2 linked regions of the Homo sapiens genome follow. The protein of the gene in region 1 interacts with the protein of each later gene in a biochemical or structural test. Each region holds a gene or a part of one and is shown on either strand. Other genes may lie near its edges.

The links.
Region 2: the proteins of IL13RA2 (region 1) and CHI3L1 interact in a biophysical measurement, tested with the Homo sapiens proteins (one study listed by IntAct).

Annotation. Positions count from the first base shown.
Region 1 is NC_000023.11:115,014,614-115,021,995, reverse strand, and holds the start of IL13RA2 (interleukin-13 receptor subunit alpha-2 precursor), read left to right. Parts: upstream 1-4,379; 5' UTR 4,380-4,443; intron 4,444-4,693; 5' UTR 4,694-4,726; coding exon 4,727-4,820; intron 4,821-6,174; coding exon 6,175-6,326; intron 6,327-7,382. UniProt on the Homo sapiens protein: Cell surface receptor that plays a role in the regulation of IL-13-mediated responses. Functions as a decoy receptor that inhibits IL-13- and IL-4-mediated signal transduction via the JAK-STAT pathway and thereby modulates immune responses and inflammation.
Region 2 is NC_000001.11:203,178,339-203,183,706, reverse strand, and holds the end of CHI3L1 (chitinase-3-like protein 1 precursor), read left to right. Parts: coding exon 1-66; intron 67-854; coding exon 855-976; intron 977-1,402; coding exon of another isoform or gene 1,403-1,610; exon of another isoform or gene 1,611-2,421; coding exon 2,422-2,545; intron 2,546-3,054; coding exon 3,055-3,237; intron 3,238-3,829; coding exon 3,830-3,946; coding exon of another isoform or gene 3,947-4,121; coding exon 4,122-4,262; 3' UTR 4,263-4,776; downstream 4,777-5,368. UniProt on the Homo sapiens protein: Carbohydrate-binding lectin with a preference for chitin. Has no chitinase activity. May play a role in tissue remodeling and in the capacity of cells to respond to and cope with changes in their environment.

The sequences.
Region 1 (7,382 bases):
TATCTACTATGAACAAGTTTATTTTGCTGAATTAATAAAGGCAAATGTGTAGGATGTGGTAAGTTATTTTCAAGTGTTGCTTAGTGGCAGTGTCCTCAGAAGCAAACCCCTCTCAAGTATATAGAGCAATTTACTATTCTTCTAGCACTTTCACATACATTATCTTATTTAATCTTCAAGACACCCCTGCCAGGCTTGTATCATTACCTCCATTTTATAGATACAAATTGAGATATAATTTACCTCTTATCACAGTGGTTGAGGCAGGAGTGAAATCCAGATTGATACTTACACCGTTGTGTCTTTTATTATAAAAAGCTCCTCGGCTATGTATCTGTTACTTTATCCAAAGAATAGTTGGTCCTGCCAGCTTTTACAGCACCTTGGTATAATTCCAAATTTGCTTTAGATGGCTTTTGGCCTCACCCATAACTTCCCCATCTTGTGGCTTGTAGAATCTGTGTCCTGGCCCTGTGACTGTTTCAGGAATACCTAACTAATATTTTCTACGTGCTTGATTATTAGGCAGGAAAGTATTAGAGATTCTAATTAATGTCTCTAAAGTAGAGAGGAGAACAAAAGAGGACCTGTGATAACTGCTTACGTTAATCTATTTCTTGAGAAACCATATGATTGGTAAGTACCTGGAATTTCTCCAATAATGCAAAGATTGCAGCCAGCTGTTAAAGTGAGAGTATTATGTTGCATGACTTTGAAGCGGTGGAGAAGCGAGGCCGAGAAGAGGCAATCACTTTAGGTTTGCCATTCCAAAGGAGATTCTCAGTGAGAAACTATCTCAAAAGTGTTGTGTAAAACTGAGTGGGTAGAAATAGAAAGCTCCCCTCCACATTGATCTTAGGCATGGAAAATACCTAGTGTAGTGATTACCATCAAGGGCTCTGGTACTAGATTGTCTAGATTTAAATCCAAGTTTCACCATTTATGGTGTGTGACTTGAGGGAAGCCATTTGACTTCTGTATGTCATAGTTTCTGGTCTTTAAAAAGTTAATCTCATAGAGTAGAGAGTAGAATAGAAGTTACCAGAGGCTGGGGAGGGAATAAGGGAGCCGGGATGGGGAAAGGTTGGTGAATGGGTACAATGTTACAGTTAGATAAGAGGAATACATTCTGATTTCTATTGCACAGTAAGGTGAGTATAGCTAACAATAATGAATTGTATTTTTCAAAAGCTAGAAGAAAGGAATTTGAATGTTTTTACCACAAAGAACTGATAAATGTTTGAGGTGATGTATATGCTAATTACCGTGATTTGATCATTACACAACGTTATCCATGTATCAAAACATTACACTGTACCCCACAAATATGTACAATCATTATGTATCAATTAAAAATTAAAGTTAAAAAGAAAATTTAAACAAATAACATAGAACTAAAAATAGTATATATGTCCAAGTCTGATTGTGAGGATTATATGAGATAATGCATATAAATTGCATAGCACAGGGCAGTGCCTGAGATGTTGAATAAATACTAGAAGGTACTATTACTATGACAGATACTATGACTGTTGCCACTTTCACTTTGTGTCTTCTGCAAGATTTAGCTGGGATAGTATCTGGCAAAAAACTTCCAAAGATGCTCAATAAATATTTATTGAATTATTACTCTGTCAGAAATGTCATAATGATAAAACTGTGTGGTGGGCTGGATGGTTTGGGTGGTGACAGTAGGTAGAGGAAGGTTGGGAGTTAGGAAGAGGCTTCTAGTAAAATAGGTGCAGGATAGATTCATTATGATAAGAACATTTATTTGCTAGTTAGTGGAAAGGGTTCAGGAGATATGGTTTTCAATCCCAGCTCTGCCACCAATAAGTTGTGTACACTTGGCTTACTTACCTTCCTCTCTGGCTGTTATTTCCTTATTTTTAAAAATGAGGAGCTAAGACCAGATGAGTGGTTATGAACTGTGGTCTGGGGGTCTGAAATATAGAAAAACAACTTTTTCAAATCTAATATGTCTGCATTTGCTTTTCTAATCTTCCCTTTGTCTTCAGGTCCCCCTGGTCCTTGTGAAAAACTCCGGTGTTCCTGGTAACCACATAGTGTATAAAGCCCCTCATTGCACTAGTGACAATCCTGTAACCCAGAAGCAAAGGAGAGAATTGTCTTTGTGTTCATTTGGGTAAGAAAGTCTTGGTTGGGCCCTAGGTGTAATTCAGCAACTCCTTTTGTGGGTTTATCCATAAGTGATGCTAGAAGCTAGTTATCCCATTTTCCACCTTTGCTTGGGTATATTGATCAGTCTGATCCATGAAATGCTATTTGATAGCCTGAGTCAGATTTCATAGCCTATAAATGGAATAGAAGCAAATGATTTTAAACTCTTTACTTAGCATTTATGCTGTACATGACATAATGCTACGAAATCTTAAAGGACAGATCGATAGGGGAGAGAGAATTTTGTTAGAATCTCTCTGAGAGCATTGTAAGGGCAGCCTGATTGCCCTTAGTCCTTAAAGGTAATATGGAAGGTTTTCTCTTTGTCAGACCTATTGCCCTGATCCCAGTAGTAACCAGTGTGTTCATCTTAATCTCTGAGGGTAGCTCTGTGGAAGATCCATAACCTTCTGTTAGCCAAATCTACCTAGTACTTACAGATGCATTAGTGGGCAGCCATTGGCTGGCAAGTAAAGAGAGAGGAATTGGGGAGAAAGAGAGATTTGTTGGGCCTCAGTGAGAGAAATGACATTCTCTCCTGATTTTATGAGGCGCAGAATTTTTAAAATAACATGGTGTTGATTCAGCTTGGTTTGCTAATTAAAGGAAGATTTAAACACTGGGGTTCCAGAGGAAAAGCGTTCATAATCCTGAGTCATGCCTGTGGGACCCAGCAGAATGGGGTGGAAGTGCACAGGACTGGGCATCATGAGATCTCTGTTCTACTTCCAGCTTTGTTACTAATTTGCTGTGTAATCTTGGGTGGGGCAAGTCTGAGTTTTACTGCCCAATTTATAAAAGAGAATTTGACTAGCCTTGTCTGTAATATACATACTGGTTCTAAAAATTTGATCCTAAGATTCTATAAAGTAGCCATTGAGGCTTACCAAAGTTACAATATTACAGATGGATCAGGTAGGGGGAAGAGGGTGGGGTGGAAGAGAGGGTCTGTCCTATTGAATTAATCTATGCACAAGAAAAGAAGGGCAGTCCCTTCTTTTCTTTTGAGTGACTTTTAATCCTTTACTTTATGTGAAATTGTTGGTTCCAGAATATAGATTCGAAGAGAAGTGTATGGAATTGGGAGTAGTAGTTTTTCCTGAAAAGCAAAGTATTTTTAATTGAGTAGCTATTTGAAGGCATGAATCCTTTAAATTTTGATCATATCCGTCAAGAACCAATATCCAAGAACAGAAAGATGACTAAATTGTATTCTATGGCAATGAAATGCTGTTTTAGTTTAAGAAAGAGATGAAAAGTTCAGATTTGCCCTTTAGAAAGGTCACTCTTGCTGTATATGGTGTGGAAAATGGATCAGAGGCAGGAAAGACTGAATAAGGAGATCCCTGCTAAGATCCTCCATTTAGGAAGTGGTAGTGGTAATGGAGAGATTAGATGGGAGAGGAGTTGAGGAAGACTCCCAGGTTTCTGGTTTGGGCAACTGGAAGGATGGCGATGCCATTTACTAATAAAGGAAACACAGGAAAAAGTGGAACAATAATGAGAGTAGATGGAAATAAAAAATTTTAATTAAAAGAAGTAATTAAAAGAAAAAAGGAGCAAAGAAGAAAGTCAATCGTCCAGCAGGGGGCGAAAGAGCTAAATAAACACTTTTTTTAAACTAAAAAAAGAAATATTTATGAGGAAACAGAGCAAAGTTTTGAACTCTCTGAGGCTTCGGTTTAGGTTCTGAGCTTTCTCAGTGGTCAAATAACTTTCTATTTTATTTTATTTTATTTTATTTATTTATTTAGAGACAGTCTCGCTCTATTGCCCAGGCTGGAGTGCAATGGTGGGATCTTGGCTCACTGCAATCTCCGCCTCCCGGGTTCAAGCCATTCTCCTGCCTCGGCCTTCCGAATAGCTGGGATTACAGGCGCCCGCCACCATGCCTGGCTAATTGTGCATTTTTAGTAGAGAAAGGATTTCACCATGTTGGCCAGGCTGTCTCAAACTCCTGACTTCAGGTGATCCACCCGCCTCAGCCTCCGAAAGTGCTGGGATTACAGGCATGAGCCACCATGCCCGGCCGAAATAACTTTCAAATACTTTTTTCTTTTTCTTTTTTCTTTTTTTCCCCTCAGAAAAGAGTATTTGACTGTGTTTTATGTGTTGCTAGGGGAGACGGTTGCTATGGAGATGGATGATATCATAACTCCATTGTGAACCAGTAAGAACACTCTCGTGAGTCTAACGGTCTTCCGGATGAAGGCTATTTGAAGTCGCCATAACCTGGTCAGAAGTGTGCCTGTCGGCGGGGAGGTGAGGAGCTACAAGGGTTTTTGCTTAGCTTTGTTTTTATTCTTGTAAGCAGGATGAGACTAGAATCCTTTCTTTCCAATTATATTGGTTCCTAACTTGATTATTTCTGTTTCCATGGTCTGAGGTGGACACAGTTTTCCCAGTTCTTGGTAGAGAAGCACACAGAGAGCTTTCCAAAGTATTTTTAATCACGTTTAGTTTGATTATTTGATGTAAGATAAAGTTAAAATGTTATATTTTTCCTTCATAGAGAGGCAATATCAAGGTTTTAAATCTCGGAGAAATGGCTTTCGTTTGCTTGGCTATCGGATGCTTATATACCTTTCTGATAAGCACAACATTTGGCTGTACTTCATCTTCAGACACCGAGATAAAAGGTAAATGGATTTTAATGGAATAGTTTTTAAATTAGGAAAAGTAAAATTAAATGGATTTTAATGGAAAATTAACTGTCTTTTTGACCTGCCTTATGGAAGTGCATAACTAACTAGTAGATGAATTGTTATTGAAACTATTTCAGGAAGTTCATGAAAAAAAGCTATGTTCTTACTAGTCACTTTCTTGTATAAGGTAACTGATGTTGACACACATTTTGTGCGATAAATGCCAAATTAAAAACACTCTCCATACCTTTTTGTATAGTCTTTTTTAACAGATTAAGTATCTGAAACCTCATTGCCTGGTACTAAACTAACTGGAACAGTTCCTTAATTACTATCCTTAGCTACTATCCTTAGCTTTTATGACAATTAGATACATTAAAAAGGTACAGAAATTTAACGTAAAATTTAAAAATAATTAGAATTATTTAATTTTTCAATTATATTATATTATTTAATATAATGTTAATGTTTTATTATTAATTAATTAAAATTATTTATAGTATATTATTATATTATATATTATATTATAATTAATATAATTAAATACATATATTTATATTATAGTGATATGTTAGTTATTATTTGTTATTATTTGTTGTTCTTATTTGTTATTGTTATTGTTAGACAGATTTTTGTAATAAAATGTTCCCATCTTAGACCAAATTCTGGCGTACATGAGCACAGAGATAAAGCCACATTGAATTTTTTGCTTCTCTAAAAATTAATACCTAGTGAGGCAAAGTCACATTTTGCATATGTGATTTCTCAAAGAAGGAACAACTATATAGCAGTAATCTAGATTTTTTTAACAGCCTTACTGAGATATAATTTACACAAAACTAACTCTTTATACAAAACTATATTCTTTAAAACTATACATGTATAGTAAAACTCTTTACTATACGTTGGTTTTTAGTATATTCACAAAGTTGTGCAACAATCACCACTATCAAAGTCCAGAATAGTTGCATCACCCGTAAAACAGCCCCTAAACCCATTAAGCAGTCACCCTGCATTGTTTCTCCCTCCAGCCCCTACCAACCACGAATCTACTTTCTCTCTCTATGAATTTGTCTATTTTGAAATTTCATAGAAATGGAACTATGTCAATATGTGGTCTTTTGTGTCTGGCTTCTTTCAGTTAGTATAATGTTCTCAAGGTTCATCCATGTTGTAGCATGAATCAGTACTTCATGTCTTTTTATGGCTGAATAATATTTGATTGTATGCATGTAGCACATTTTGTTTATCTGTTAATCAATTGGTGCACATTTGGAAGCCATCTAGATTTAGCAATATTTGTCATAAAATACAGAAAAAATAAAAGTGTTTTATTGATTTATTTCAGTTAACCCTCCTCAGGATTTTGAGATAGTGGATCCCGGATACTTAGGTTATCTCTATTTGCAATGGCAACCCCCACTGTCTCTGGATCATTTTAAGGAATGCACAGTGGAATATGAACTAAAATACCGAAACATTGGTAGTGAAACATGGAAGGTAAGTAAAGCATGCATTTGCCGTATCAGAGTGATCATCAGGTGTTACTTTGTGATTCCTGACTTTAGTGTCCGCTCCAATTCCCATATCTCAATAGTTCTAATTAGGATATAAAAAGCTTCCACACCCGCTTCTGTCTCCTATGCATCCTGCTATATCTGTTTTCACCCCATCCAGTGTTAAGATTGCCATTGGAAGAACAAGAAAAAAAACAAAAACAAAAACAAAAAACTCGGTCTCGTGCAATATGAACTTGAAGAGCAGCACTTCACTAGAAGAGCATTTCACTGTATTTTACAATTGCTTATATTCTTGGATGTGGGCCTTATACATGCTACTGACCTGTGACCTTTTCTACTGTAGGAGACAAGGCTTATTTATCTTTGTACCCTTCCCACAGAGGGTCGCAGGATTATGGTTCGTTGTATATATTGTAGTAAGAGCTCAATGAAAATGTTTTGAATTATTAACTACTTATATACTCAACAAGCATGTATATTCAAAGATTTCTGTTGTAGATGACATTCTGTTACCTCTCTAATTCAGCTAGGTAGTTTCAAGAGACAATTCAAATTGAGCATTTATTGATCAACTTTGTGCTGGGCACTCTACTAGGTATCAGGAATATATGAATAAATAATAAATGATTTTTGTCCTCCAGAAGCTCATGATTTGTCTGTATTTTTCTGGTTACTTCCAGGGTTTTAGTTTATGTATTTCTTGAAGGTTTCATATTATATTTTGAAATGTGGCATGATTTGCCAAGTAATGTGCCTATGGTATATGAAAATTATCTATTTGATTCCAAGCAGATATAGCTCAAGTTTCTGCCATAAAGTTTTTTTTCCCTTCCAAAAGTTTTTGTTTTTATTTGGAATTAGATGTTAAGATTCAAATGATCTCATAAAATGATATGACATACAGAGGTGAGCTCTGCTGGAAATGTATCTGTGGCATTGTATCAAATAGTCTCTAGGATTGTCTTAGATATTGGGAACTCTCCAGGGTATTAATGATTTATTAGTCTTATTAATATAGCTCACTATACCATGGAGG
Region 2 (5,368 bases), on another chromosome or scaffold:
GGGCTGGACCTTGCCTGGCTCTACCCTGGACGGAGAGACAAACAGCATTTTACCACCCTAATCAAGGTGCTGGTCAGGTCAGGGACAGGGAGGGAGGTGGGCAGGCATGAGGGAATGGGGTGGGCTAGAAGCCGGCGTCAGCTGCTGTCCTCCTGAGGACAGGTAAAGAGGGACTTCAGCCTCAGGGCAGTGTCCTGGGACCCTGTGCCCTGAAGATCTCACATAGCAAGGAAGGCTTCTTGTGACCATGGTGGGAGGTGGGAATGGGGTTCTAAGAGGTGGAAGGTTGTGACTGAGCAGAGCACCCACTTATAACTACCCACTTAGTGCATTGCCCATTGCCCACCCTTCAATCCCATACTGATGCCACCCATACCCAGCATGCACTGTGTCCAGCAGCTCTCAGCTCTGCCTGGGGGCAGCCTAAGTATCTCCAGTTACCAGGGGCAGAAGGAGAGTCTAAACAAATTGTTCACAATACCAGCAGCAATCACTTTAACTTTGGGATTTCATGCACCAGCTAGAACAAAGCACAGACCGAAAGGCAAATGTCTCCCAAAGTCATCTGTGGGCCAATAGGGGTCACCCACTGTCCGATGCTCCCTCCAGGACAGGGAGTAATTGAGTGCTGATGGGTGTGCATGGGTTTGGGGAGAAGATTAGTCAGTTTTTTAGGAAAAGGATGGGTGACTTGAGGATGGGACCACTGATGAGCCACTTTATCACTTCCACTAGGCCCCAGGCAGGTTGGGGAGTACAGCAAATGGGTTGCGCAGAGACCTAGTCCGCCCTCGATGAGTCTACCTCTCATGCCACTTGGGACCCTTTCTCTCACCTGCCTGTCTCCCATCTAGGAAATGAAGGCCGAATTTATAAAGGAAGCCCAGCCAGGGAAAAAGCAGCTCCTGCTCAGCGCAGCACTGTCTGCGGGGAAGGTCACCATTGACAGCAGCTATGACATTGCCAAGATATCCCAGTGAGTCTCCTGCCCCAGGCAGCCTCCCCAGAACCTCTGCCAACACTCCTGTTTCCCCGCCACCCCCAGCCCTAGCACTCCATGTAGACTGAGGACACTGGGCTTCCAGTCCCAGTTCTTCCAAAGCCTTGATGTGTGACCTTGAGCAAGTCACTTCCCTGCCCTGTGCCTCAGTTTCCCCATCTGTCAAATGAGGCATAACAATCCTTGCCTTTCCTTTTTCACCTGGGCTGTTGGCTGAGCAGTTGAGAGAGCTGCTATGAAAGTATTTTGGAAAGGGAAGTGGAAAAAGCTATTCAAACCCTCCAGCTATTGCAGAGTATTTTCTCCACACCAGGCAGAGCAGAGTGCTGGGCCCTGGAGAGGCCACACAGCAGCCTCTTTCTAGAGTGCTGGGGAGTCCTCAAGGCTCTCTCATACACACAGGCCTCCCCCTTTCCTGTTGGCCCCACGCCTCATCCTCACCCCACCCCTCATGCCTGTGAGGAACAAGGAACAGCCAAGCAGCCTCATCTCTCCTGAGAGCAGAGCCATGGGTCTCGGGAAACCCAGGAGTAAGGAACAAAGACTCTTCAAAATGACTTCAGAGCTTTCTTTAGGATCCCAGGGAGGTGTAAACTCAGTGCTTAATTAAATGGATTCTTTAGAGGGTGGGAAACAGGTGGATGTCAACCATTTGCCCCACATACCCGTATTCATGCAATCCACCCCCAGTGGGCTCACCGGTGCGGGTGTGCAAAACCTCCTCCCACCCCAGTCATCTTAGGTTCAGGTCATCCTTTGGTCCTGCTCTTTCCCCGCCAGGCTGTCTGTTGATGCTACTTTTAATCTGCTTTCACTAAGATAAGCCTGGCAGAAGTGGTGGGGGTAAGGTGGGCTGTAGGCCAGCTCCCAAATGTGTGCTGGGCATAACAGAAGACCCATTCTTGACTGAAGTGCCCTTGTGGGACCCTGAGCCCGTGCCCTGGAGTGGCACAGGGAGGTGTGCCAGCAATGGGGACCGAGGTCACTGGGGACTGCTGGGGTTCGGGCTAGTGGCCTGTCTGGCTGCTGTCTGCTTCCCTCGTTCACATCCTGCTGGAGCCTTAAATAGGAGCCCAAAAGCTTTTCTTTCTTACTTTTTTTTGAGACAAAATCTCACTCTGTTGCCCAGGCCGGAGTGCAGTGGCACAACCTCTGCCGCCTGGGTTCAAGCGATTCTCCTGCCTCAGCCTCCCGAGTAGCTGGGATTACAGGTGCCTGCCACCATGCCTGGCTAATTTTCGTAGTTAGAGTAGAGACGGGGTTTCACCATCTTGGCCAGGCTGGTCTTGAACTCCTCACCTCATGATCCACCTGCCTCGGCCTCCCAAAGTGCTGGGATTCCAGGTATGAGCCACCACGCCCGGCCTAAAGCTTTTCTATTAATAATTTCCTGCCTCACCCTCCATCCCCTTCCTCCTCAGACACCTGGATTTCATTAGCATCATGACCTACGATTTTCATGGAGCCTGGCGTGGGACCACAGGCCATCACAGTCCCCTGTTCCGAGGTCAGGAGGATGCAAGTCCTGACAGATTCAGCAACACTGTGAGTTCCCAGAAGGAGGGAGGGCCAGGAGGGGGCCGCAAGACCTGCCATCTGCCAGTGCTCACACACCAATCTCTCTAGCCCTCAGTACAGTCCTGCAAGAGGGGGGTCATGAGGCCCATTCCACAGATAAGGAAACTGAGGCCCAAAGTCTGGGCATGCTGCGTTGCTCTGGGAAGGTGATCTGCAGGGTAAATGGAGTGAGGGCAGGGGGCCGAATGGGGAGAGGCTGGGAGCCGAGGAGGTAGGAGTCATTGTGCCCTCAGAGCCAACCACCTGATTTCTGCATCTGTCAAATAGTAATAGCCCCTTCCTATGCCTCAAAGGATTTTTTTCAAGAATGAAACTGTAAAATTCACTTTAAAGTGACATGATCCGTTCCCGGAGGGACAGGGGAATCCCCAGTGCACCATACACCAATAACCCCTGCTAAGGCAGCAGTATTAATTGCTCAACCTTCCGCACCTGTGCACTAACTGCTCACGTTGTTCCCACCCTACCCCACCCAGGACTATGCTGTGGGGTACATGTTGAGGCTGGGGGCTCCTGCCAGTAAGCTGGTGATGGGCATCCCCACCTTCGGGAGGAGCTTCACTCTGGCTTCTTCTGAGACTGGTGTTGGAGCCCCAATCTCAGGACCGGGAATTCCAGGCCGGTTCACCAAGGAGGCAGGGACCCTTGCCTACTATGAGGTAATGGAGTTGGGGAGAAGGTAGGATTCCCCCACACCACCAGCAGCCCTGGGGAAGGTGATTCCCCACCACGTTCTTGCTTTTTCTCCTTTGGGAATAAAGAAAATGTCCGGTTGCCCCAGCATGCCTGAGGAAGTGGAAGGGAGAGGTTAGGACATTTGTTGCTGAAAATCTCCAGCAGGTACAGGCACATGGGCCTGCACCACTAGGCACCTGGGATAGCCCTCTGGCTATGGGGCTGAGGTCTTCCTTCCAGCCCAGGAAAGAGCAGAGGTCAAGAGGCAGATTTTTTGTTTCACTCTAGCCTCTGCTACTCTGTGTGGCCTTGGGCCTGTCCTCAGTGTCAACCAGCAGGCCTCACATCTCTGTTTAAATGGAAGAAGCTAAGCAGGGCCAAGGCAGCCACCATCTCTGGGTCATTTGCCTCTGGTTTGTATAAACTTGTGTGATGCATGCAGCCTGCAGACCCTGCAGAGAGTGAGGCTGCAGGATGGAGCAGGAGCTAAAAGAGATTTGGAGAGTGGCGTCTCCTGGTGACCTGCAAGGTCTCGGCACGACTCCCCACACTGCCTTTTCCCTGTTATCTGCTCAGATCTGTGACTTCCTCCGCGGAGCCACAGTCCATAGAATCCTCGGCCAGCAGGTCCCCTATGCCACCAAGGGCAACCAGTGGGTAGGATACGACGACCAGGAAAGCGTCAAAAGCAAGGTAGGTTTCCCCAAGGCCACACCTCAGGACAAAGAGAAAGAAGGAGGCCCCGCTCCCAGCAGCCAGATTCCTGTCCCTTGCACTGAGGTCTGGGCTGGGCTCACAGAGCACATGTGCCCTGTACACACTCTGGGTCAGGGAACCCAGCCCTGCTCCTCTGGGCCTCCCCTGCCAGGTGCAGTACCTGAAGGACAGGCAGCTGGCGGGCGCCATGGTATGGGCCCTGGACCTGGATGACTTCCAGGGCTCCTTCTGTGGCCAGGATCTGCGCTTCCCTCTCACCAATGCCATCAAGGATGCACTCGCTGCAACGTAGCCCTCTGTTCTGCACACAGCACGGGGGCCAAGGATGCCCCGTCCCCCTCTGGCTCCAGCTGGCCGGGAGCCTGATCACCTGCCCTGCTGAGTCCCAGGCTGAGCCTCAGTCTCCCTCCCTTGGGGCCTATGCAGAGGTCCACAACACACAGATTTGAGCTCAGCCCTGGTGGGCAGAGAGGTAGGGATGGGGCTGTGGGGATAGTGAGGCATCGCAATGTAAGACTCGGGATTAGTACACACTTGTTGATTAATGGAAATGTTTACAGATCCCCAAGCCTGGCAAGGGAATTTCTTCAACTCCCTGCCCCCCAGCCCTCCTTATCAAAGGACACCATTTTGGCAAGCTCTATCACCAAGGAGCCAAACATCCTACAAGACACAGTGACCATACTAATTATACCCCCTGCAAAGCCCAGCTTGAAACCTTCACTTAGGAACGTAATCGTGTCCCCTATCCTACTTCCCCTTCCTAATTCCACAGCTGCTCAATAAAGTACAAGAGCTTAACAGTGTGTTGGCGCTTTGCTTTGGTCTATCTTTGAGCGCCCACTAGACCCACTGGACTCACCTCCCCCATCTCTTCTGGGTTCCTTCCTCTGAGCCTTGGGACCCCTGAGCTTGCAGAGATGAGGCCGCCATGTCCTCTGCCTAGCCGCAGAGAGCCCCAGTGGGAGGCCAGCGTCCTCAGATTCACCTGCCTTGGACTTAACCCAAGCATGGCTGATGGCCTTCCAAATATTAAAGTCATTGCCATCCAGATTTCTAAATTAAATTCCCTGTTGAAAGAAACGTTTTCTGTTTCCTGAAGGCTAGCAGGCCCTGGGAAAGAAGGCTTTTCATCCCAACACTCCCTCTCTTCTGATCCACAGGAAGGTGGTGGGAGCTCATCACAGGACCAGGTTAGAAAGCCCTGAACCCTGGACCCTCAGGGCCAGCAGGAAATGCAGATGTCATCTCATGCACCCTTCCTGCCTCTCGGGACTGGAGTCCCTGCAGAGTGCTTGAGAGATGGCCCTCCAGCCTCCCAGTGAGGGGCAGCCGATTACCTTGGAAGCAACCCATTCCGTGGCTGGGCTGAAATCTGTCAATAGTCCTAGTGCTGGG